Linked DNA regions of Homo sapiens: region 2 is linked to region 1. Evidence: fine-mapped expression QTL. A gene starts in region 1. The other region holds a variant in brackets. All regions are shown on one strand. Distances are from middle to middle.

The links.
Region 2: its variant is fine-mapped to the expression of LINC02656 in whole blood (TOPMed, PIP above 0.99).

Annotation. Positions count from the first base shown.
Region 1 is chr10:6,349,135-6,351,634 of GRCh38, reverse strand. LINC02656 (long intergenic non-protein coding RNA 2656) reads right to left here and starts at 1,319. Exons shown (of 1, transcript NR_148966.1): 1 at 1-1,319.
Region 2 is chr10:6,323,555-6,326,588 of GRCh38, reverse strand. LINC02649 (long intergenic non-protein coding RNA 2649) reads right to left here and starts at 45. Exons shown (of 6, transcript NR_040079.2): 1 at 1-45. It also overlaps a transcript of PFKFB3 not described here. The variant T/C (reference allele first, on the strand shown) is at 1,634.

The DNA.
Region 1 (2,500 bases):
CTTCTCTGTCTCCTCCTCCCTCCTCCCATTCCTTGGTTAACTCTTAGTCATCCATCATCACAGCTGCAAAGTCACTTCCCTAGGGAAGCTGTCCCTTTTTGCAGGCTGGTCAGCTTCCTCGGATCTAAGCTGTTAAAAGTTCTGTGTATTTTCCCTTCTCTACACTTACCATAGTTGACATTTTATTTTTGCTCTGGGATTATTTGGTTAATGTGCTAGAATCAAAACTCCAGAAGGGCCAGAACACTATGGCTTTTTTTGTTATCACTATGTTCCCAGCACTCAGCAAAAGAAAAATAAAAAACCAGACCCTCATTGTCACCTAATGGTGGTACTGTAATTCTCTCATTCCTTCCAAATGTATCAGCTGAATTTTTCAATAAAGAAGACATTTCCCTTATCAGCTCTTCCGTAACTGTGAGGTACAGTTTATACAAGAAAAGCAGAATAAATGCTTGAATTTTCCCCTTCTATTTACCAGTTTTCAGAATAATCAGAGGTGACAGACTCCTCCAAAGGTAACAAATGAGTTTGGTTTTACCGTTTTGAGTATTATGAATTCATGGATGTATACATGTTGATGTGTTTCAGTCCACTAAAGTCATTATTCTTTGGGATGCTCAAATTGTCTCATTGTTGGCCAGTAGAAGCCTGGGCCCTTTTGCCATGACCTCAGTTGTCTTTAATAGCTGTCCGGCTTGTATGACAAGACATTCTTGGATCCCCTTGTACAGCTCCTGACACCAATCTGGTTCAGCTATTTCTTCAAGAAGGCCTGGTTCCTTGTACATTCTTATTCACCTGTGGTTTCAATTCCCTAGTCTCTAAAAGAAACACTACAAATAGAAATTCTGTTCTGATTTTTCTCCTGTACAGCGGACCTGTATACCTAACAGATGACTGGGCATTGCCATCTCTGCCCACAACACACATCCTGAATTTGACTTGTTTGCACATGAAGTCATCATCCCTCCCCAAGATGGGCTCTCTATTATGCCTTCCTTGGGGATCAGTACTTGGAGTCGGGTCAGGGCAAGATACTGTTAGTGACATGTGGAATTCAGCCACACCATCATGAGAAGGTCCTCTCTGTGTGTTCTGGCTAAACCAGCCTTCTACCAGGTTAGCACGATTCTGGGCTTTGCAACATTCATGACCTGTTTGAGGGCACTGAAGGAGATGCTCAGCCACATCCCTTAATTTGCATGAGCCTGTAGGAAAAATATGTTTAAGAAGTCTGGCTGTCTGAGCAGGCCAAAGGAGAAGATGGAAGAGAAGGTGGTTTCCTGAAAGCATGAAGCTGTATCTGTTCATATTTTGACACCATCCCAGGAAGAAGAGGCTGAGGTAGGAAAGTACAGTCAGCTCTGGGAGTTCCCTCTGGAGAAGCTGGCTATGAGACGTGGAAGAAGCTCCCCAGCTGCAGTAGAAGGCACGAGAAGGTTTCAGGCTTTCCAGGTGGGCGTAGAATGGGCAGCAGCACAGGCATAACCTGGAGTGGCACAGGTGCCAGGGAAGAGGGCAGACGCCATGCGTGACATAGCAAGGGGATCACACCGCATCCATTGTGCATGAGACCACTTTTCACCACCCAGGCGACTCAAGGAGATAACTGGATGGGTGGTTCCAGGAAAAGAATGGACATCCTGCTAGGCCATCATATGCTGTCTCAGAGCACTGAGGTTTGATAAATGTGGTGAATTTGGAGGCACTCACAGCTGAGTCCCAGCACAGAGTGGGCACATAAGCAACACCATTTTCTCATTGCCCAAGCCAGCCCCTGCCCACAGCACCTCCACTTCCCAGAGCCACACCCAATCAATGGCCAACTTATGATTCTAATCTTGAATGTCTGTCGAGATCTTTTCCTTCTCCATCACTAAGCTCTCTCCTTTAAGTAAAAATTTTTCTCCTGGAGGAATGCCTCCTGGCTGATGCTTCTGCAAATCACCTCACTTCTCTTCAAGCCCTCCTCTGTTACAGACTATTCCAAATTTTTTTTTGTTTTTTTGTTTTTTTGTTTTTAACTTTTGCCTACCTTGTCGGCTCACGCCTGTAATCCCAGCACTTTGGGAAGCCGAGGTGGGTGGATCACCTGAGGTCAGGGGCTCTAGACCAGCCTGGCCAACATGGTGAAACCCTAGCTCTACTAAAAATTCAAAAATAAGCCGGGTGTGGTGGTGGGTGCCCGTAATCCCAGCTACTCAGGAGGCTGAGGCAGGAGAATCGCTTGAACCCAGGAGGCGGAGGTTGCAGTGAGCCAAGATCGAGCCACCGCACTCCAGCCTGGGTGACAGAGTGAAACTCCATCTTAAAAAAAAAAAAAAAAAATGCCTACCTAAATCTAACGTAAAACTTTGAGCTCACTCTGAAATATATTCATATTTACTTACAAGGGGAAAATGCCCTATGAACTGAAAATTATGTGTATTTTAGAACATACACAAAAGAGAAGTTAAAAGAAAATGAGAAAAATAAATAGATGTGATAATACTTTATT
Region 2 (3,034 bases), 25 kb after region 1:
GGGAGGAGAGTCACGGTGGAGCTCCTTACTGGTAACTCCATATCTAGAAGACAATTTGGGGTTATCAGCACAGTTCCAAATGTGCAGTTTTTAGTAAGTGCTTGTGTTTATTATAGACCACGTTCATTCTTTTCTATTTTTATTTTAAGTTCTGGGGTACATGTGCAGGATGTGCAGGTTTGCTACATAGGTAAACGTGTGCCATGGTGGTTTGCTGCTCCTATCAACCCGTCACGTAGGTATTAAACCCAGCATACATTAGGTCTTTTCCCTAATGCTTTACCACCACCACCACCCACACTCCCCTGACAGACCCCAGTGTGTGATGTTCCCCTCCCTGTGTCCACGGGTTCTCATTTTTCAGCTCCCACTTATGAGTGAGAACATGCAGTGTTTGGTTTTCTGCAGGCGTTAGTTTGCTGAGCATAAGGGCTTCTAGCTCCACCCATGTCCTTGCAAAGGTAGACCATGTTCATTCTTTATTTCACAACATCGTTGGTTTTTCAGATGTCTTGAGATGACAATGTATGATAAAAGGTAGAGCTAGTGAATTGGCCCATTTGTAAATGTTTTTATTATAATTAACACAAAAGAAGCCTCTTGAACGTGGTATTATGAAGCCACCTCTGAGCAGTGCACCCCAGGACTCATTAATTGGGTCAGCAACAGAGCGGCAGAAGGAGCATGAGGAAGGAACTATACAGACACATTGCTATTTCCATCTTGATGATAACCATTGATGTACGTGTGTATCTCTTTGGGGGTTACTATAAGAATACACTGCTAAATAACTCAGTGGACACATACCTTCTTGCTAACATTTTACTAGGACAGCTCTGATCATTCTCTTAGAAGGATTATATCCCATTGCTTTATACCCTATTTTAAATTGAGCATTAACGGAACACAGTATTTTAATTGTAACTCTGCCAACATCTTTATTCAGAGGACTGTTGCCATTTTTGTCTTTCAGGAAATTTTTGTCTCCATGAAAGGCAAAATTACATTTTTTTTCCTGATTGAAATGGTGTAGTGTATTCTTGGTTATCAAAATACTCTTGGCTTTGGGACTTTAAATTGATAAATATTCATTGTGTGTGAAAATATGATACATATTGTGTGATCTCAACAACATAACAATATGCATTCAATTATGTGTGTATACACACACAAGGACTTAGAAGAGCAAGGTCACATGTAATCTGCTTGTGATTACAGGTGACTTCTGAGTTCTGTCTTCCACGTGCTCTTCATTTTCAATAAGCACATGTTATTAACTTTGAAAGTTTGAGTGCTTACATTTTATTTTTAAAAATTGTATGCCAGGCTGGGCGCAGTGGTTCACACCTGTAATCTCAGCACTTTGGGAGGCCAAGGGAGACAGATTGCTTGGGTCCAGGAGTTTGAGACCAGCCTGGGCAACATAGCAAAATCCCGTCTTTACTAAAAATACAAAAAATTAGCAGTTGTGGTGGCCGGCGCCTGTAACCCCAGCTACTCGGGAGGCTGAGGTGGGAGAATCACCTGAGCCTGGGAGGCGAAGGCTATAGTGAGTCAAGATTGCACCACTGCACTCCAGCCTGGGTGTCAGAGGGAGATCCTGTTTCAATTTAAAAAAATTATATGCCAACAC[T/C]TGTATGCATCTGTATATACCTATGTATGTATTTATGGGAAGAGGTAATAGCTTTATAAACAAAACTCGAAGAAGTTGTGAGCCCTAAGTTAAGATCCACTGCTCTACTTCCAATGCTCTCTTCTTTTTTTTTTTCCTTTAAATTGTGGTAAAATATATATAACATAAAATTTGGCATTTAACCATTTTTAAGTCTATAGTTCAGAGGCATTAAATACACATTAACAGCTGGGCGCAGTGGCTCATGCCTGTAACCCTAACACTTCTGGAGGCCGAGGTGGGTGGATCATTTGAGGTCGGGAGTTCGAGACCAGCCTGGCCAACATGGCAAAACCCCGTGTCCACTAAAAATACAAAAAGTATTAGCTGGTCGTGGTGGCGGGTGCCTGTAATCCCAGCTACTCAGGAGGCTGAGGCAGGCAAACCACCCAAACCCGGGAGGCAGAGGTTGCAGTGAGCCGAGATCACGCCACTGCACTCCAGCCTGAGCGACAGAGCAAGACACAGTCTCAAAACAAAACAAAACACATTAACTTTGTTGTGCAACCATCAACACCATCCATCTCCAAAACTCTTTTCCTGTTGTAAAACTGAAAGTCTATACCCACTACAGAATTTCACCGTAAGTATTAACCCCCTATTACTCCCCAGCTTGGCCCTGGTAACCACCATACTACCTTCTGTCTCTATGAATTTGACTACTCTGGGAATCTAATGTAAATAGAATCATATGGTGTCTGTCGTTTGTATCTAGCTTATTCCACTCAGCGTCATGTCATCAAGGTTCGTCCATGTTGTAGCATGTGTCAGAATTTCATTCTTAGTTAAAGCTGAATAATATTCCATTGTATGGGCAGACCACATTTTGTTTATCCCTTTGTCTATCCATGGACACTGGGTTGTTTCCACCTTTTGGCTATTATGAATAACACATCTATAAATGTGGGTGTACAAGTGCCTTGGGTTGTTTCTACCTTTTGGCTCTTGTGATTAATGCTGCTATGAACACTGGTGTTCATGTCCCTGCTCTCAATACTTTGGGGTATATGCCCAGAAGTAGAATGGCGGAATCACGCGGTAGTCCTCTGTTTCATTTTTAAGGAACCACCATCCCATTTTCCACAGAAGCTGCAGCATCTCACCTTCCTACCAGCAATGCACATGGGTTTCGATTTCTCTACATCTCGGCCAATACATGCTCTTTTCTGGTTTTTTGATAACAGTCATTGGCTTCGGTGTGAAGTGATACTGATGGTCTTTTCATCGTATTGGAGAGGCACGGAGTGAACAATTCTGACCTGAAATCCTCATCTCTCCAAGTGTGCCAGTTGAAGTAAATTTCTCAATCTGTATGTGAAAATTTTTTTCCTCTTCACTAAAGTAGAAAAGTTAAATTATTTA